2 separate regions of the Homo sapiens genome follow, and region 1 is linked to region 2. Evidence: fine-mapped QTL for protein levels in blood plasma. A gene starts in region 2. The other region holds a variant in brackets. All regions are shown on one strand. Distances are from middle to middle. Region 1 overlaps MELTF (melanotransferrin). Region 2 holds the start of MELTF (melanotransferrin).

Region 1 (10,498 bases), 11 kb after region 2:
ACAGCCCGCCCAGGCAGGGTGCTGGTGCAGCCTCTCTCGAGGCCTCTCCCTGCTGCCCTCACCCACTCCCCTCCCCTCCTAGAGGTCGGTACCTCCTATTACGCCGTGGCTGTGGTCAGGAGGAGCTCCCATGTGACCATTGACACCCTGAAAGGCGTGAAGTCCTGCCACACGGGCATCAATCGCACAGTGGGCTGGAACGTGCCCGTGGGCTACCTGGTGGAGAGCGGCCGCCTCTCGGTGATGGGCTGCGATGTACTCAAAGGTGAGGGCTTTGGGCTGGGCAGGAGGGTCCCCAGGCCTCCCCCTCCTTTCCTTGGCCCATGCTCGTCCCTTCACTGGGTAGCCTCCCTCCGGCCTCGCCACCATTCTTCATTCCTGGAAGGCGCAGCAGCCCCCGCCCGCCCCGTGCCTCCCCCGCCTCCACTCTGCCGCCGGCGCCGCCGCTTGACTTCCTGCTTGCTTGGACCCTGTGGGGCGCGATTCTTGCTCACGCATCGTGGTGTCCCACATGGCACAGCCAGGCACAGGCCCAGCCCATGAGTGGGAAGCAGTGAATCTCCCAGGAGTGCTTCCCACCAGTATAGACCGGGCGCAGGTCACTGTGTCTAGAAATGTGTCCTCGGCTTTACAGGACCAGAAATGCTATTTTTTCAGGACCCAAACGAGGTGCCGACTTGCACCCAGAAAGCTCCCAAGTGGCTCATCAGCCCAACCAGCCGTGTAAACCCGCGAGAGCCTGGAAGCCTCACCCTCTCAGCTGGTGGCCAGGTGTGAGTGGCTCACCAGGCACTTGGCATATTTATTAAATATCTACTCCTCTGGGAGGTCACAAAAAAAAAACCAGGAAGAGGGCTTACTCTGGAAAAGCTCAGTCTGGCTGGCGATGAGCGTGGCCCGACTGGCTCAGGTGCCAGCAGCAGGGCCTCCTCGCGCGGCACAGGATAAATACTTGTGGGTTTTGGTGCTGGCAGGGCCGGAAGAACCATGCAGGGCGGCAGACCCTGACCTCGTCCCCCGTGAGGCTGGCCGCCGGGCGTGTGCCTCCCTCCCTGTGCCGTGAGAAGGGTTGTCTACCCATCAGTGATCTTCAATAATTCTTTATTTCCCCTCTGTCATCAGTCACAGTTGGCTGAGCTGGAAATGAAACCCACAGTGAGAAGAGCATCTGGCTGATACTGAGTTATCCCACGTGGTCATTTAGGAGGAAATGTTTAGTTCCCCCGAACCATTTTTAAATGACAGTCGCTCCCAGTGCTGTCTGCTGCCTTGGTGGACCCGGTTTGGGGGTCACTGATCGGGTCCACTCCCCAGCTTTGCTCAGACTGAAGCTGGAAGGTGGAACCATTCTCAGCAGAGTCCAGATGAGAGCCCGGGCCCCCTGCTGACCCTGGGGGCTTGGCTTGGCTCTGAAGAAAGTTCTGCTGAGTGACCTCTCTACCTCCTTCCCACAGCTGTCAGCGACTATTTTGGGGGCAGCTGCGTCCCGGGGGCAGGAGAGACCAGTTACTCTGAGTCCCTCTGTCGCCTCTGCAGGGGTGACAGCTCTGGGGAAGGGGTGTGTGACAAGAGCCCCCTGGAGAGATACTACGACTACAGCGGGGCCTTCCGGTGAGCGGAGTGGGGGCAGGGAGGGGCCGAGGGCAGGGAGGAGCTGAGGCCACAAATGCTGGGGAAAAACACCTTTGCCCAGAGAGGGCCGTGGAGGGGGAAGTGGCATGTTGGCTGCGTCTCATCAAAGCACCCTTTATATAGTTCTGTGCCCTGGTTAGTTTAAAAACATCCAGCTGGAATATGCCAAACCGGATTTGCTCATGAAATCAACGTGTTTGGTATATTTAGTGAGGTGAGGGCTCCAAGAGAAGAAAATGGAAAAAACAGCCTTTTGGCCACTCCCATGTCCCCATTCTCAGACCAGCAGGGAGCGGGGTCAGGGGAGTGTGTCTGGACACCTGGGGCCGGCCCGTCTCTGCTGCTGGTTGCGGCTGGCACCTTGGGTAACCCTTCCGTGGATGCAGGAGACTCTAACAGCTCGTGGTCCAATTCCATCTGCCTGCAGAGGAGGAAATGTGCTCAGCAGGATTGGAAAGGAAGCTTCTCGGGCCCCTCTAGCTACCTCACGTTTCCACCTGGAGCAGGGAAGCCTGCTGGTGCCCCACACTCCAGATGTTATCTGACTGGATGCGGTTTTCGGCTTAGAGAGAAGAAACAGTCCTCAGCACCCCTGAGCGGGACAGCCTTGCCCCTCCACTCCCCGTGTCCTTGGCCATGCACACATTCTCTCTGGCTCTCTTGGAGCCTCAGAGCCCTCTCCTGATGTCGCCCGCCCCGATCTGCTCTAATCCCTGTGCATTTTCTGCCCGTGGGGACCCAAGCAGACCCTTTGCCCAGGAGGTCTGACCTGCCTCCAACACTGGGCAGTGACATCAGCAGATCGTGTAAAAGTCAATGGTCCCTTCCACTGAGGATTCTGCGGCATGGCATGAAAAGGCCTTCTAGTCCAATCCCCTGCCTCAGGGTAGAATGCTCTTCAAAACACCCTGAAAATTAGCCCAGCATGGTGGCACACACCTGTCACCCCAGCTACTTTGGAGGCAGAGGCAGGATGATCACTTGAGCCCAAGAGGTCAAAGCTGCCATGAGCTATGATTGCGCCACTGCACTCCAGCCTGGGCGACACAGTGAGACCCTATCTCTAAAAACAAAACAACGAAAACAAACACACAGAAAACCGACGCCCTGAGAGTCAAGGCTGCTGATATTATAATAGCAGCTGCCCTGGGAGTGCCTGCTCCCTACAGGCCTGAGCTAAGATGGAGAGGGTCCATACTGGATTATAAGGAGCCTCTCATCCTCAGAGCAGCCCTGTGGGAGCTACTTTCCCACCCCCGCTTTACAGATGATAGGGGCTAGGAAGGGGCCACAACTCGGCAAAGGCACACAGCCGACCAGCCAGGGAGCTGGAACCCAGACCACACAACTGGAAAGCCCATGCCCATCATGGCCACCCCTACAGCCCAAGCCAGGCCTCCAGAGGTGGAAGATGGGCAGGGGCAGGGGCTCAGCCCATCCAGACCCACAGCTTCTCCTCCGCAGGTGCCTGGCGGAAGGGGCAGGGGACGTGGCTTTTGTGAAGCACAGCACGGTACTGGAGAACACGGATGGTGAGTGGGGGAGGGGCACGGGCCCAGAGGAGCAGGGAGTCAGGCCAGGCCGGCTTGGGGCAGGGACCCTAGATGGCAGAGTTGGGATCAAACGCCCTAGTGCAGTGCTGCTCTGAGTCTCTGGGTGACCTTGGACAAGTCCCACAGTCTCCGAGCCTCAGCACTCCCAGCTGCAAAAGAGCAGAGGCAGGTGTCACCAGTGGAGTGCCCACTGCCCACAGGGCAGGAGAAGGGGGCCAGCGAGCAGCTCTGCTCTGCTTTGATTTGAATATGGCATTGGGTTCTGGTTCCACCTGAAGATGAGGGTCTGATTTTTTAAGCAATTTGCAAACCCCTGCACTGGATCTCACCTACCAGCCCTTCCTGGCATTTTTCTCCTCTTGCCTGGAGAATTTGTCCCTCATCCCTGGGAAGGTTTAAGATATAGTTTGGTGTTGAGGCTGGGCACGGTGGCTCATGCCTGTAATCCCAGCACTTTGGGAGGCCGAGGTGGGCGGATCACGAGGTCAGGAGAAGAGACCATCCTGGCCAACATGGTGAAATCCTATCTCTGCTAAAATACAAAAAACTAGCCGAGCGTGGTGGTGGGTGCCTCAAATCCCAGCTACTTGGGAGGCTGAGGCAGGGGAATTGCTTGAACCCAGGAGGCAGAGATTGCAGTGAGCCGAGATCACACCACTGCACTCCAGCCTGGTGACAGAGCGAGACTCTGTCTAAAAAACAACAACAAAAAAAAAACCCACAAAGACTGGTGTTATATATTGAGCCATCATGTCATTTAAGTTTTTTAATTTTGAAAGAACTGAGCTTTGGAAAACTTACAAGAATAACTCAAAGAGCTCCCTTCTATTCTTCACCCAAATTCTAACTGTTTAGCATTTTCCCACATTTTATTGTGTGTGTGTGTGTGTGTGCGTGTGTGTTCTGACCCATTTGAGAGTACATTTGCCTATGTCATACCCCTTGAATACTTTGGTATGTATCTCCTAAGACAAGGAGGTGTGTACCTAGCCACAGTAATCCAAATCAGGACACGCAACTTTGATACAATCCTGTTATCCAGTCTATAGCCGATATTGCAGATTCACTCACCGTCCCAATTCTGTCCTTCATGCCCATTTCTTGCAGACCAGGACCTAAACTCTTACCACGCATGGGGTTTAGTTGTTAGATCTCTTTACTTTCCTTTATCTTGGAACAGTTTCTCAGTCTTTGTTTTTATGACATTGGCATTTTGAAGCATCAGGCCGGTTATTTTATAGAATGTCCCTCAATTTAGATTTGCCTGAAGATTGTTTCTTTTTTTAAATTGAGATATAATTTACATGCAGCAAAATTTGTTCTTTTTGAAGGATAGTTCTATGAGTTTTGCCAAATACATGCAGTTGTATAACCACCACCACAATCGAGATCTTGATGGGGCAGACCCTTCAGCCCAGGAGTTCCTCAGGCCCCTGCTAGTTATCTCCCCGCACCTGCCAGCAAGCAGCAAACACACCGTTCTGTCTGCAGTTTTGCGTCTCCCAGGACGTCTGATGATTGGGTTTTTTTTTTAAATCATTGTCATTCTTTGCTGTTATTAACCATTGCCTTTTAAATCAGAAAGTCCATCACGAAGGCAAACATGGACCAGATCTGAGGAGGAAGAAGGCGAGTGCCCTGCACACGAGGAAGCACGTAGGACGATGCGCTCTAGTGCTGGGCAAGCCTGGAAATGGGCTCCCGTTCACAGGCCCCAGGACGAGTCTGACAAAGGAGAATTTGGAAAACGGGCAAAGAGTAGGGATATGTTGGGTTAAGAATCAGCTCTTTCAAACTTGGGGTTTTTTTTGAGATGGGGGTCTCACCATGTTGCCCAGGCTGGTCTCAAACCCCCAGCCTCAACTGATCCTCGCATCTCAGCCTCCTGAGTAGCTGGGATGACAGGCGTGCACCTGGCAGCTTTTTCAAAGTGTTGATGGTAATCTGAGGCAATCTAAGGGAGTCATTTTTTAAGTGACTTTATACAGAAAGATTGGTAAGAGCCAAGGGGTAGAAGTGGCATAAATGTCTAAAGCAGGGAAGTGACAGGACTTTCATTGTTCTTGGCTGAGGAGAAGCGGGAGTGGCTGATGGAAGCACCTAAATGATGCCTTTGTCTGTGGGAAGGCAAATGATGCCCCAGAGCTCTAACCAAAGGTTTTGCAGCCGCC[G/A]AAAAACAGGAAAGTTGGGAAGCGGGGGTAGGACTACACTGAATCATTAACAGTGCTGTAAACTACCATGTGGCCATTAACAATGACCTTTAGGGAGTTTTCCTAAACGATCACTCTGGTGCGGGTGTTTGGTTTTGTTTTAAAATAGCTTTGCAGTGAAAGCTTTCATGACCATACAAATTATCTTTTTTCTTCCTATTTCCTTGTAGAGGTTTTTTTCCTCCTTGTCTTAAGGTCATAAAAATATTGTTATGTGGGACCATCTGTGGTTTAATTATAGTCCTTAATATTCGTCTTCTCAATATCCCTGTTTGGTGTTAATAGTTACTCTTGCAAATTTTCTTTTCTATCGAGAAACAAATGAACTTATGGAAAGTTTCCAATACTGTGGAAAAATACTCTACCAAATAGGATGCAAAATTGCCTGTCAACTATGTCCTTAACCAGGTTAAAAGCGGTCAAAAGGAGGCTGGGCACGGTGCCTCACGCCTGTAATCCCAGCACTTTGGGAGGCCGAGGCTGGCAGATCATGAGGTCAGGGGTTCAAGACCGGCCTGGCCAACATGGTGAAACCCCATCTCTAGGAAAAATACAAAAATTAGCCAGGCATCTTGGTGCACACCTGTAATCTGAGCTACTCGGGAGGCTGAGGCAGAAGAATAACTTGAACCTGGGAGGCGGAGGTTGCAGTGAGCCAAGATCATGCCACTGCACTCCAGCCTGAGCGACAGAGTAAGACTCCATCTCAAAAAGAGAAAAAAGGCCAGGTGTGGAGGCTCACGCCTGTAATCCCAGCACTTTGGGAGGCCGAGGTGGGTGGATCACGAGGTCAGGAGATCAAGACCATCCTGGCTAACACAGTAAAACCCCATCTCTAATAAAAAAAAATACAAAAAATTAGCCGGGCGTGGTGGCGGGCACCTGTGGTCCCAGCTACTCGGGAGGCTGAGGCAGGAGAATGGCGTGAACCCGGAAGGTGGAGGTTGCAGTGAGCCGAGATCGTGCCACTGCACTCCAGCCTGGGCGAAAGGGCCAGACTCCGTCTCAAAAAGAAAAAGGGGGGGTGAGGTCAAAAGACAGGAAATAAAATAGAAAAAAGGACTTGAAAGAAATCCATCGCAATATGAATAGTTGGAGTTATGGGAGATCCCCCGTCCTCTCTAGTCCTGGGGTGGGTAGATTCCTTCGGGGTTTGTTTCCACCGTGGCCCCTGCTCCGGGAGCCCTGCCCCCTGCCCCCTGCTCAGAGCCAAACGCAGTGCCTCATGGCAGCCGCAAGCTCATCCTAGACTCTTGGTACATTCATCTGTCTCACCCAAAGCCTTTCTTTTTTTTTGAGACAGAGTTTCGCTCTGTCGCCCAGGCTGGAGTGCAGTGGCGTGATCTCGGCTCACTGCAAGCTCCGCCTCCCAGGTTCACACCATTCTCCTGCCTCAGCCTCCCCAGTAGCTGGGATTACAGGCGCCCGCCACCACGCCCAGCTAATTTTTTGTATTTTTAGTAGAGATGGGGTTTCACCGTGTTAGCCAGGATGGTCTTGATCTCCTGACCTCGTGATCCGCCCACCTCGGCCTCCCAAAGTGCTGGGATTACAGGCGTGAGCCACCACGCCCGGCCAGCCTTTCTTATTTTCTTACTTTTTTTATCTTGAATAGTTATTTATAAGTATTGTATTACTGTCAGATACCTCCAATTCACTTTAGCAATAGAAATTGGTGAGAGCTAGAAAATGAGAGTAACGAGATAGAGTCTGTGTAGGTACCTGGAGTTGGGTGCGGCCACCAAGCTCTGCCACCTTCTGAATGCTGGGTTCTCATGTCCATGACACCCAGCCACCCCTCAGATTCCCTCTCCTGGGCCTTCCCCGCCACCCGCCCCAACCCCTTTCGGAGCTGGCTCAGCCCAGGCTTCCTGCTTCCCAGGGAAGACGCTTCCCTCCTGGGGCCAGGCCCTGCTGTCACAGGACTTCGAGCTGCTGTGCCGGGATGGTAGCCGGGCCGATGTCACCGAGTGGAGGCAGTGCCATCTGGCCCGGGTGCCTGCTCACGCCGTGGTGGTCCGGGCCGACACAGATGGGGGCCTCATCTTCCGGCTGCTCAACGAAGGCCAGGTGGGCTCAGGGTCCCCCAACCACCTGCACAGCTTCCTAGATGGTGCCGGGCCTTGTGGTCGCTCAGCAGGGTGGGACCAGGAGGGGCAGGACCCAGAGACTGTCCTTGGGACGGACCCCAGCATCGGGCCAGGTCAGAGTGAGGAACCGACTATGCTGGCTGGCCAGAAGGAGGGCTGGCCAGGAGAGGGGGGCCCAGAGGAGGGGGACCCAGGGATTCAGGCACCCTCAGAAGAAGCTCCTGAGACTTGTGTCTCTGAGAGCTAAAACCAAAACATATGAGCAAATAAACCAAGTAACAAAACCAGCGCCTTTCAAAGCACACCATTAATTACATGTGGCGAATAAGGTTTGGCTAAAACCGCCGCTTGTGACAGCAATAGACTTCTGACTGCTGGTGCCCCAGGCTCAGTTAGTTTTGCCCTATCCAGGCTGCTACCACCAGCCCCACGGCGTGTCCTCAGGACCGTCCCATGCCTGGCCACAGCCATGTGTCCAAACAGCTGAGTGTGAGGAGGCCAAATGAACTCAGAGTAGACCCAGAACTGACAGGGCCCAGGGGAAGGAGGCCGCAGATCAGGGGAGGCGCCGCAGAAGAGGGAGGCCTCACCTGGCCCTCAGGGTGGGTGCCTGGTCTGAGGTCGGGGAAGAAGGAGGTAGGGGCCAAAGTGGGAGGGAAGGATATGGCCTGTCAGCACCCTCACCACCCTGTACCACACCCCTTGACACACAGCGTCTGTTCAGCCACGAGGGCAGCAGCTTCCAGATGTTCAGCTCTGAGGCCTATGGCCAGAAGGATCTACTCTTCAAAGACTCTACCTCGGAGCTTGTGCCCATCGCCACACAGACCTATGAGGCGTGGCTGGGCCATGAGTACCTGCACGCCATGAAGGGTCTGCTCTGTGACCCCAACCGTAAGTCCACCTGTCCCCACTGCTGCCAGCTCCAGCCCAGCTCAACCTCGGGCATGGCGAGGCTCTCTGGGAAAGTGGCCGGGGGAAGACGCTCACCAGGGAGGCCTCTGCGGGAACCTGTCATTTCCATTCCTCTGCCCCTGGGGCTTTGGGGAGGAGGCATCTCTTCCACTGTATGGCCTGTTGTACCTCGGAAGCCCCACCTGGCCGCAGCGGGGGAGGATGCAGACCATCAGAATCTGTCTTGGGAAGGGTCTCCTCGCCCCCCCATCCACGGCCATGGCATCCTGTCAGCTCTTCTACAGCCTCTCGCTCCTACTCCCCGCCTCTACCCCATGGCTACAGCCCTGGCGCAGGTGCCATCTTTCGCCTGGACTATTGCAGTAGTCTACAAGTGAGCTTCTTGCCTTTAGCCCCCTGGCCCCATGTATCTTCCACCTCCAGCCAGGGAAGTGGGTACCACACACTGAGTTACATGCACGCCAGCCATGGTCTTCCTCAGGCCTCACAGTTGCCCCTTTTCTGTGTGAGGAAGTGGGATCCGATGGTTAAATAACTTATCCCAGCCACACACCTGACAGGAGAAAGGCCCAGAATTTCCCTTGGGTCCGACTCCATGCTCTTCCATGGCAGTACTGGCCTGGCAGTGACCGCTTGCTTGCCCCACCCCAGGGCTGCCCCCCTACCTGCGCTGGTGTGTGCTCTCCACTCCCGAGATCCAGAAGTGTGGAGACATGGCCGTGGCCTTCCGCCGGCAGCGGCTCAAGCCAGAGATCCAGTGCGTGTCAGCCAAGTCCCCCCAACACTGCATGGAGCGGATCCAGGTGGGAGTCACGCAGGTGCAGCGTGGGCCAGGTGGGCGGGTGGTGGCAGTGCCTGGGCAGTTCTTACTACCCACACCCCCTGCTGCCTGGGGAAGAGGAGAGTGTCTACTGCAACAAGCCCACAGAGACGGGTGGGGAGGAGCGACCGCAGGGGCCAGCACCCACCCCAGGGGACAGAGACAGGCGGGGAGGAGCGACCGCAGGGGCCAGCACCCACCCCAGGGGACAGGCAGATAGGGGTGAGTCCCCTGGAGAGCCTGGGAGCTCCTCACTAAGTGGGGGTGCCAGGAGCAGAAGAAGCGCTGGCCCAGCTGGGCACTGACGCCCTGTAGCCTGGGGCAAGCCCCTTCCCCTTTCTGAATCTCAGCCTTCCCTTGTGCAATAGAGAGTGGGCGTGGATCATTGTTCGACTTTTTTTTTCTTTTTTCCTGATTTTTCTAAATAGACAAATAATAATTGTGCATATTCATGAGATACATACTGATGTTTTGATACATAGAATACATGGTGATCAGAGCAGGATAATAATTAACATACCATCATCTCAAACATTGCTCATTTCTCCGTGTGGAGAACATGCAATATCGTCCTACCTGTTTGAAACTATGTATTATTGTTAACTCTAGTCATCCTACAGTCTATAGAACACTGGAGCTTATTCCTCCTATCTCTCCTGGCTGGGTGCATTGGCTCACACCTATAATCCCAGCACTTTGGGAGGCCAAGGTGGGTGGATCACTTGAGGTTAGGAGTTCAAGACCAGCCTGGCCAACATGGTGAAACTCTGTTTCTACTAAAAGTACAAAAAAATTAGCCGAGCATGGTGGCACACAGTTGTAATCCCAACTACTTGGGAGGCTGAGGCAGGAGAATCGCTTGGACCCGGGAGGTGGAGGTTGCAGGGAGCCGAGATCACACCATTGCACTCCAGCCTGGGCGACAAGAGAGAGACTGTCTCAAAAAAAAAAAAAAAAAAAAAAACTCTCCCTATTCCTCCCTTCCCCTACCCTTCCCAGTCTGCAGCATCCTCTGTTCTACTTTTTACTTCTGTGAGATCAACTTTTTTTAGCTTCCACATATGAGTGGAACATATGGTGTTTAACTTGCTGTGCCTGGCTTATTTCACATAACACGGTGTCCCCCAGTTCCGTCCGTGTTGCTGCCAGTGACAGGATTTCATTCTTTTTTATGGCTAAATAGTATTCCACGGTGCATGCCAATGACATTTTCTCTATCCATCCTCTGTTGTTGGACACCTGGGTTGATTCCACATCCTGGCTATTGTGGCCAGTGCT
Region 2 (10,498 bases):
GTTTCTTCTCAGATTAACTCTTATATTCAATGAAGTTGATGGAGATTTATTAATGGCTTTAAAACTATATCTCCAAAGTTCATCTTTGAGTCTTTATAATCCTCTTCTACATATTAAAGTCTGAACTGCAAGTAAGTTTTCAGGAAAAGAAAGCTTTTGTGGTTTGATAATAAACTGAGCTCAGCATTGAGAGACTGACATTTGATGGCAGGTCCAACTCAGTTGGAACCTTTCCCGTCCTCCTCCCGCCCATCCCCAGGGAAGAAGCTTTGTTTTCCTTTCTTCCTGCTCACTCTGCTTGTCTGGATCTGATTCTTCACATTCTGATCAAATCTCTCCTGTAAAAACTGACCCTCAACGCTGAACCCCCTGAAAACAGCCCCTCTCCCTTCTTAGCCAAGTATCTTGAGATACTCTGTTCACTCTTCCCTTCATTTATAATAGTATAATTATGTATTGAATCCTATTATATTCCGGACCTGATGCTAGACACTGGGATCGGTGGTAGACAAGACACCATCCCTGCCCTCATGGAGTTGAGTTTCCTGCCTGAGCCTCAGCCCTGGCCATGCCATTGAAACTGCTCACACAGCTCTTTGGGGCCACCATAGTCCCCAGATCCTGTGGCTCTTCTCATTCTTCCCTTCAGCAGCATCAGACACCAGTAATGATAGTTAATAACATCCTAAAACATAACAGTTCACACTTAGAAATCATCCTCTGTGTTTAAGGCCCTGTGATGAGCACAGAAATGATCAAACATAGACTCTGCCTTTGAAAATCCTGGACATAGAGTTTGGCACAGCCCAAATGGACAGGACTTCTCCTACATATGCTTCACAGAAAAAAATTCTTTCCTATAAAGAGGCAAAAAAAAAAAAAAAAAAAAAGCTTTTATTCCTAAAACTTCCTCAACATGTCTGCCATTGTTCTCAATATACAAATTCAGATTAAGCAGTCAGCAAGTGTAACACCCTTTGATATCACACTACTGCAGGTGCTAACGTCCCAACCAGTCGGCAAGAGCGTAACATCCTCTGACATCACACTACTGCAGGTGCTCACACAGTAACCAGTCAGCAACAGCATAACATCCTCTGACATCACACTACTGCAGGTGCTCACACCACAACCCGTCAGCAAGAGTGTAACATCCTCTGACATCACACTACTGCAGGTGCTCACACAGTAACCAGTCAGCAAGAGCGTAACATCCTCTGACATCACACTACTGCAGGTGCTCACAAAGTAACCAGTCAGCAAGAGTGTAACATCCTCTGACATCACACTACTGCAGGTGCTCACACAGTAACCAGTCAGCAAGAGTGTAACATCCTCTGACATCACACTACTGCAGGTGCTCACACCCCAACAAGTCAGCAAGAGGGTAACATCCTCTGACATCACACTACTGCAGATGCTGACACCCCAACCCGTCAGCAAGAGTGTAACATCCTCTGACATCACACTACAGCAGGTGCTCACACAGTAACCAGTCAGCAAGAGAGTAACATCCTCTGACATCACACTACTGCAGGTGCTCACACCCCAACCAGTCAGCAAGAGCGTAACATCCTCTGACATCACACTACTGCAGGTGCTCACATCCCATCCCGTCAGCAGGAGAGTAACATCCTCTGACATCACACCACTGCAGGTGCTCACACCCCAACCAGCCAGCAAGAGCGTAACATCCTCTGACATCACACTACTGCAGGTGCTCACACCCCAACCAGTCAGCAAGAGAGTAACATCCTCTGACATCACACTACTGCAGGTGCTCACACCCCAACCAGTCAGCAAGAGCGTAACATCCTCTGACATCACACTACTGCAGGTGCTCACATCCCATCCCGTCAGCAGGAGAGTAACATCCTCTGACATCACACCACTGCAGGTGCTCACACCCCAACCAGCCAGCAAGAGCGTAACATCCTCTGACATCACACTACTGCAGGTGCTCATGTCCCAACCAGTCAGCAAGAGTGTAACATCCTCTGACATCACACTACTGCAGGTACTCACCCCAACCAGTCAGCAAGAGTGTAACATCCTCTGACATCACACGACTGCAGGTGCTCACACCCAACCAGTCAGCAAGAGTGTAACATGCTCTGACATCACACTACTGCAGGTGCTCACACCACAACCAGTCAGCAAGAGTGTAAAATCTTCTGACATCACACGACTGCAGGTGCTCACACCCAACCAGTCAGCAAGAGTGTAACATCCTCTGACATCACACTACTGCAGGTGCTCACACAGTAACCAGTCAGCAAGAGAGTAACATCCTCTGACATCACACTACTGCAGATGCTCACACCCCAACCAGTTGGCAAGAGTGTAACATCCTCTGACATCACACTACTGCAGATGCTCACACCCCAACCAGTTGGCAAGAGTGTAACATCCTCTGACATCACACTACTGCAGGTGCTCACACCCAAACCAGTCAGCAAGAGAGTAACATCCTCTGACATCACACTACTGCAGGTGCTCACACGCCAACCCGTCAGCAAGAGTGTAACATCCTCTGACATCACACTACTGCAGGTGCTCACACCCAAACCAGTCAGCAAGAGTGTAACATCCTCTGACATCACACTACTGCAGGTGCTCACACCCCAACCAGTCAGCAAGAGTGTAACATCCTGTGACATCACACTACTGCAGGTGCTAACGTCCCAACCAGTCAGCAAGAGCGTAACATCCTGTGACATCACACTACTGCAGATGCTCACACCCCAACCCATCAGCAAGAGTGTAACATCCTCTGACATCACACTACTGCAGGTGCTCACACCCCAACAAGTCAGCAAGAGGGTAACATCCTCTGACATCACACTACTGCAGATGCTGACACCCCAACCCGTCAGCAAGAGTGTAACATCCTCTGACATCACACTACAGCAGGTGCTCACACAGTAACCAGTCAGCAAGAGTGTAACATCCTCTGACATCACACTACTGCAGGTGCTCACACCCCAACCAGTCAGCAAGAGTGTAAAATCTTCTGACATCACACGACTGCAGGTGCTCACACCCCAACCAGTCAGCAAGAGAGGTAACATCCTCTGACATCACACTACTGCAGGTGCTCACACCCCAACCAGTCAGCAAGAGTGTAAAATCTTCTGACATCACACTACTTCAGGTGCTCACACCCAACCCATCAGCAAGAGTGTAACATCCTCTGACATCACACTACTGCAGGTGCTCATGTCCCAACCAGTCAGCAAGAGTGTAACATCCTCTGACATCACACTACTGCAGGTGCTGACACCCCAACCAGTCAGCAAGAGTGTAAAATCTTCTGACATCACACGACTGCAGGTGCTCACACCCCAACCCATCAGCAAGAGTGTAACATCCTCTGACATCACACTACTTCAGGTGCTCACACCCCAACAAGTCAGCAAGAGGGTAACATCCTCTGACATCACACTACTGCAGGTGCTCACACCACAACCAGTCAGCAAGAGTGTAAAATCTTCTGACATCACACGACTGCAGGTGCTGACACCCCAACCAGTCAGCAAGAGCGTAACATCCTCTGACATCACACTACTGCAGGTGCTCACACCCAAACTTTCTCAGGGCACACCAGCCTTCCAAGGGTTCCCCAGAATAAAAACTATTTGGCTTGTTCTTAAAGACATTGCGGGCCATAGAAATAGACAGACAGAAATTATGATTTGTTGAAAAATATTTTTTCCTAAGTACAATATTTTACTTCGTTTTGGGTAAAGGATTTCACCCTTTGCTGGCTCATTAGCCACTACCTGCTGATGGACCTTCTCAGTCTCCTGTCAAAGGCCCCCACTTTCTGAGGCTGCCTGTAGTGTATTCCCTCCATGGGATGTACTGTTCCTCGATTCCCTGACAAGCAAGCTCAATGCTTCTGGGCACTCTGAATCCTTGGAGAGCCAGAGCTGTGTCTTTGGCAAGAGTGGAGAAGAGCTCTTTTTATTTCATATTATGGGGTAGGGTCAGGGAGACTCAGGCAGAGCTGCTTAGGCCCCAGAATCTGATCGAAGTGTCAGTGAAACCAGTTCCTTTAGTCTGTATGCTCTCCCTCTAATCTCAATATGAGTCTAGAATGGGGACCAAACTAACCTCAGCTTCTGCTCCTCCAGAAGGCTGTTTGTGGGTTAAACTACTGGCTTATTACTCTCTCATTACATCCCACCCATTTCTCTGGCACACCCAAGTATGTCCGGACCCCAGAAATGGCAGAATCCTGGCTCAAGCTGAGGCAGACTTCCCCATTCCACAAAGGTGATGCGCGTTCATGCCAACCCTGGGCCAACGGGCCCGATGTAGAATCCCTGAGAACCCAGAGGCAGCAAGTTCACTGATGAGTCACAGCTGAATGACACCCAAGAGATAAGGGAAGAACTTCATTGTGAAAGAGCCCAGCAAACCTCTTAGGTTATGGTTGTTCTCACTCCCTATCAGCGTCACGTGGAGTTTTGCCAAAGGAAGGACTTAGTCATCAAACAGATCCTGCCAGTCATCTGGTGGCTCCTGGAGTGTGCCAACTGAGCCTTTCTATCCTCGTGGTCAGGAGAACGAGGCTTGTTAAGGACTCTTCTATTTATTCCATCTTCTTAGGACAAGCCATCAGCCCCTCTAGCAAGGCTGCCTGCTAGTCCATTCGGCACCTTTGTGCAAACTAGGAAGAAGGGATCCATCTGGGGGGATGGAGAAACAGCTTCCACAGCACAAGTCCTCCAGAGCAGACAGGAGACGGAAAGTATGGCACGTCACGGCCATCATGACCTACCTTTTACATGTGGGGAACAAGCCCAGAGAGGGCGACGAACTCGCCCAGGGTCTGTAAGTCGCTGGTTTTTAAAAAGTAGAGCTCGAGTCTCCTGAAGCCCAGCCCATGTTCCTTCCCCTGATCCAGTGTGTGATAAGCAGTAGCTTCATGGCCCCATAGGAGGGAGGCCTTCCTTCCCCAGGGCGCAGAGCAAGCTCAAGGACAGACAAACTCAGAGGGATGTCTTCTCTCTCACTGTTGTACTTACCCATGTCAGAGAGAGACATCATTTCTGAGTCTCAGAGGGGCTGATGACATAAAGGTGAGGCCTAAATGGAGGCAGGTGACTAACAATGTCTTCAGTTCATTCCCCGCATCCCCAACCACATGGGGAGTGCCGCTTTTGCCCGCCTGCGACAGTGGTTCTCAACATTTGCTGTGCCCCGAAATAAAAACAGATTGTGGGCCCCGCCCCCAGAGCTGTCGATCCAGTGGGTCGGAGGTGGGGCCTGAGCACTTGCATTTCCAGCAAGTTCCAGGGTGATGCTCACGTTGCTGGCCTAGGGACCACACTGAGAACCACTGTCCTAGAAATACGGTCAACCCACCCTTTCCTCCCTCACCTTCTTCACTCTCTTCCTCCCCTTCTCCGCCTGTTTCTCCTTTTCCGCTTCCTCCAATTCCTCTCTGGTCCTCTTCTCACCTTCCAATCAGCTGGCTCTGCCACTGACTGGATGCCTGACTCGGGCAAGTCACCTCCCGTCTCTAGGCCCGAGGAGAGGCAGTCGGCTAGGCCGAGATGCCCCTGCCCGGCTCCCCCCTCGCCAGGGCGCTCGGCCTGGGCTCCCCCGTATCCCAGATCCTCTGTGCAGCTGTGGCCGAGATGCCCCTGCCCGGCTCCCCCCTCGCCAGGGCGCTCGGCCTGGGCTCCCCCGTATCCCAGATCCTCTGTGCAGCTGTGGCCGAGATGCCCCTGCCCGGCTCCCCCCTCGCCAGGGCGCTCGGCCTGGGCTCCCCCGTATCCCAGATCCTCTGTGCAGCTGTGGCCGAGATGCCCCTGCCCGGCTCCCCCCTCGCCAGGGCGCTCGGCCTGGGCTCCCCCGTATCCCAGATCCTCTGTGCAGCTGTGCTGGGAGGGAGCTGCTGCGTGAATGAGATCATCCTCCAGCTGCCCTCCAGCCCCGACTCTGGGATTCTGACCTCTCCTTCCTTCCACGTCTGAGCTTTTCTCTCTCCAGTTAGACACGGTATCTGGAGTCTTTCTAGGGCGCGAGGAGGGGAGGATACCCTGGAACGCGGGGTAGGAGGCTGAGGCGAGAGCCCCGAGCAGCGGCGCCCGGGCCCGAGCGGGAGGCCTCCAGCAGGGGGCGCGCCGGGGCCGCCCAGGGGCGGGGTCCGGGGTCGGCGGGAGGTGACCTGCGCCCCAGGGGCGTGGATTCCGCCCGGGAACTCGCGGCCGCACTTAAGGAGCTCGGGCCAGCGCGAGGGGGAGCAGGGAGGAAGCCCGGCTGCTGCGGACCTCCTCGGACCCGGACCCAGCCCCAGCCCGGCCCCAGCCAGCCCCGACGGCGCCATGCGGGGTCCGAGCGGGGCTCTGTGGCTGCTCCTGGCTCTGCGCACCGGTGAGGCCCCGCTGTGAGAGCCAAAGGCGGGCGGGGGTCCCGGGGCGCCGCGGCCCGGCTGAGCAGGTCCCGGGGCTGGAAATGTGCCTGAGCCTGCGGCTCCGGGGCAGTGAGACGGGGGAGGCAGGGGCTCGGGGTCGAGTGAGGACGGCGGAGGGAACTAGCACTGAAGCGCAGACGGGGAAGTCTGGAAGGCTTCTTGGAGGAGGCGGCCTCGAACACCCGAGGCTTCCGACGCTCCAAGGAGAAGCGCGGGCTGAGGCGTGGTGGGGAGGCCTCGGGGTGTGGAGAGGAGCTCCCGGAGGGCGGCCCCTCCCGACGGGCGCAGGAACTCAGGAAGACTTTGGGGGCTCGGAGCAGCTCTTTCTCCCGAGCCCCCGCGGGAGAAGATTCAGAGGGACTGACCGGCAGGCGCGGGAGTCCGCCCGGGGGTTTCTGGCACATGCAGGGATGGAGGTGGAGACGGAGGCCGGGTCCCCTCGCGTCGGCGCCCCGGGGAGTCAGGGCCCGGGATGGTGGGACGGGAGGCGGGACCTCGGGGAGCGGCTCGCGGGGATCGCGGGCGGCGACCGCCGAGGGGATGGAGTTCGTGGCACCGCTGTGGCCGCAGGCGACGCACTCATCAATGCAAACGATGAAGCCACCGCCACCCCCGCCCCGTCTGAACTTTGCAGTTTCCCGCCTGGGTGGTGGGGGGCTTGGAGCGCTGCGGAGGGGAGGGCAGTTCGACTTCCCAGGCCTCCGCCAGGAGTGGGGAGGGGAGGGCTGTGGCGGAAGCTTCAGTCTCGGCCCTTGGGCTGGTGGGGCTGCCACGGGAGGGTGACCTGGTTTCGGGCGGAGTCATGCGTTTCCCTCCCTCCTGCACAGGCCTCTGGCAGTGCTGGCTGGGGCAGGGTGAATGGCAGAGGAGCTCAGGCCTGAAAGTCATCGGCCCCAAGGGGCTCCAGCACCCCTTCCTCTGGGCCCCTAGCCTGGGAGCTCTCGGGGACTCTGACCCGGTCAGATCCTGAGGCATAAGCAGAAGTCCACTGAGGATGTGGGTGTCTCAGGCTCTCTACAAGGGGGTTTACTTTCAACACAGAAGGTGGGGTTTTTATCTGCTCTCTCAGAAGATGAAGCAGGCTCAGAGAGGCTTGAACCTACCCTGATGGGTCCTCAGCCTCCCCTCTGTGCCTGCCGTCTTCCCTTGGCAGGGCCTGGCACTGTGCCCACCGAGGGTGGCTTTGCAGCCAGCATCATCGCAGACACTCCCCGAGGGGACAGGGCTCCTGGAGGGCAGCCCACCCACAGCCCCCTCACCTCACTCTCCCGTCCCAGTTCATGAGGAAGGCCCAGGGACACTGCTGGGTGAGGGAACCTACACGAGCACCCTCTTCGGGAGGCCTGGAGAGGGGAAGAAGCTTCCACTTCCAGGGCCTGCCGAGACTCCCTAGCCAGTGCTCCCACCAGGTGGGGGTAGCTGAGAAGCGACCTGTAGACCCTCCCATTCCTCCATAAAGGGCCGGGTTCTGAGCCATTCCATTTGCCAGCAGCCGTGCTCCTGGTCAGAGAGGCCCTGAGCACAGGAATACCAGCCCTTCCCCTGTCTCTGCGCCTAGTGCCTCCCTGTGGGAGGGCAGGGCTGCCCTAGAGGACTGGCTGTCCAGGCGAATGGGCTCACACAGAACTGCTGGAGCCACCCTCCATGGTGGGCCGGGGCTGGGCAGGGCGGGGGAGCCGGGCCTCACGGTCCCCTGCCCGCAGTGCTCGGTGGCATGGAGGTGCGGTGGTGCGCCACCTCGGACCCAGAGCAGCACAAGTGCGGCAACATGAGCGAGGCCTTCCGGGAAGCGGGCATCCAGCCCTCCCTCCTCTGCGTCCGGGGCACCTCCGCCGACCACTGCGTCCAGCTCATCGCGGTGAGTCCTCTCCCTTCCACCCTGCCAGACAAGAGGGCTGTGACTCAGGAGGGAGCACACAACAGCCCCATTCACCAGGAAAGGAGCCGACCTCGCCCTGCCAGGCCCGGCCGATAGGATCTCCCGAGTCTCCCTGGCCACGAGGCCAGCTTGCCTCCCGCCGGGCCCAGGCCAGGAGGTGGGAGCCTCAGGAGGACCCGCTGCTCAGAGGGCGCCAGCAAAGAAAGGCACCTGAGAGGCTTCCCTTCCACAAGGCCCCTGCCAAGGGGGCCCAGATGGTGGCGGCCCCTCAGTGGCCGCAGGCGGTTACTTGCTCATCTTGCCATGGGGCTCTCCAGAATGGGGCTTGTGTGGTTTCTGGGGAAGGAGGAGCAGGGGCTGGACTCCCAGGTGGGTGAGCATGGGGTAGGAGAGCAGGTCTGCTGAGAACTGCTAAATGACACTGACAATCCTCCGAGGCACCACCAGAGAGTGGCGTCCCTCCTGGGTGGGTGCAAAGAAAGCTGGCTTTTCATTCCAGCTCTGCCCCCCATATGCCCCCAAGACCTAATCCAATCACAGGCCCACACTGGGGCCAAGGCTGTGGGTCAGGCTCCATGTGAGGGCAGAAACCCCAAGCACAGACCACCTTAGAGAAAAAAAGCTAGAAAACCTAGGGTAGCAGTAGAGGCGCAGGGTGGAGGGACAGAAAGCGAGGGAGACTCACTTGTCACTGCGCACCGTTTTCTGCTATCTGATTTTTTTACTATGATATCTGAGTCCTGCAAAATCAATGATTAGTATTTTTTTTTTAACATTATTAGGAAAACAAGGTGAATCCCTGGCCTGGGAAAGGGGGAGAGCCCTGGGCTCTGGTTGGGCTCCTGGGACAGATGAGAAGGACAGCACAGCCCTCTGGGGCTTGGGGTGGGGCCCCAGGCCATCTGGTAGGTGTCCCGAGTTCTTTGCTGAGCAGGCCAGCTGGGCCAGGCTTGGCTGAGCCACATTTCCTTGCAGGCCCAGGAGGCTGACGCCATCACTCTGGATGGAGGAGCCATCTATGAGGCGGGAAAGGAGCACGGCCTGAAGCCGGTGGTGGGCGAAGTGTACGATCAAGGTAAGAGGGTGCAGTGGGAGGAGAGAGGACAGCCTGCGCTGGAAGTCAGCTCTCCAGGCTGCCCTTGCTGGGCCTGGCCTGAGCTGGCCATCAGCCCTGTCCACAGAGCAGTCCTGGAGTCCCAGCCAGAAGAACGCCCTAAGGCTCTCTCAAATTCCCCAGGGACAGGAGCTCCAGGGACACAGAGAGCTGCCCCAAGTCTGCTCTTGCCCGCAGGGAGCCCAGCAGCCCCCTAGCCTGTGCCCACTCAGCTCTTACTGCGGGCTGTCCCGGGCCTGGCGTGGTGCCGGGCACGGTGCTGTGTGCGTAACTGCCTTGGGTGAGCAAGGCGTCCTTAATGCCGAGCCACCTGCACTCTCAGGGCCTCCCTTCAGAAGCCCGGCTCCGGGTAGGGAGGTGCTGTCTGGCAGCGGCACAGCTCAGCAGACCCAGCCCTTCCCCTTCCCATGACTTCTGTGACCTTGGCCAACCTCCACTTCCCAGACTGTATAATGGGGATAGTAACACCTGCGCTGTCACCCAGACTAAATGAGCCAGGCCGTGTGCCCACCTGACATGTGGTATGTGCTGGAAAGTGTGAGTTCCTTTGCCCAGTCCCCGCATCACACATGGGACCTGCCTCCAGCTCAGCCAGCTCCTGTGTCTCCCCCGCCACCTCTGCTTGGCCGGTGCCTGGCCTCCATCACAGTCCAGCGCAACTGTCACCTCCTCCAAGGTGCTCCCTGAGCCCCTCCCTCTCTGGAGCAGGGCCTCTCTTGCCCGCACCCACATGGCCTCTGCAAGCCTCTGCCTGCTCAGTCTCGTTAGTCCTCAGAGGAGGGTCCAGTCTTCCCCTGTGTCTACCCTCTGGAACTCCACACAGCATCTCGCTTGGAGAAAGCACTGGCTGGTTCCTTGTTGAATTAATGGCCATCAAATGACACACGGCACAGTCCAACCCTGCACACCCATCAGCCAGAAACAGCTCTGCCTCCGAGGCCCCACGCACCTCTTCCTCTTTAATTAACTCGACACCTCTACTGAGCACCTGCTACCCGCTGGTCATAAGCATGCAGCAGTAAACGAAGAGACCTTCCTGCCCCCACAGAGCAGAGAGTAAATAAACACACCCAAAACA

What was found. PIP is the posterior inclusion probability: the model's chance that the variant is causal. Protein levels are from antibody-based Olink assays in UK Biobank. Linkage for the fine-mapping came from a reference panel and not from the study's own genotypes, which makes the PIPs less certain.
Region 1: its variant is fine-mapped to the plasma level of the MELTF protein (UK Biobank, PIP above 0.99).

Annotation. Positions count from the first base shown.
Region 1 is chr3:197,014,070-197,024,567 of GRCh38, reverse strand. It overlaps MELTF (melanotransferrin), which reads left to right. Exons shown (of 16, transcript NM_005929.6): 4 at 83-265; 5 at 1,455-1,611; 6 at 3,097-3,164; 7 at 7,278-7,465; 8 at 8,199-8,379; 9 at 9,052-9,203. Among named protein-coding and RNA genes, the nearest start is that of MELTF, 10 kb to the left of the region's middle. RefSeq lists an enhancer at 1,785-1,834. The variant G/A (reference allele first, on the strand shown) is at 5,357.
Region 2 is chr3:197,025,543-197,036,040 of GRCh38, reverse strand. MELTF (melanotransferrin) reads left to right here and starts at 6,224. Exons shown (of 16, transcript NM_005929.6): 1 at 6,224-6,387; 2 at 8,131-8,285; 3 at 9,282-9,381. The coding sequence starts at 6,339. RefSeq lists enhancers at 4,209-4,503, 3,608-4,807, 5,195-5,831, 5,832-6,468 and silencers at 6,002-6,491, 6,542-6,591, 6,782-6,961.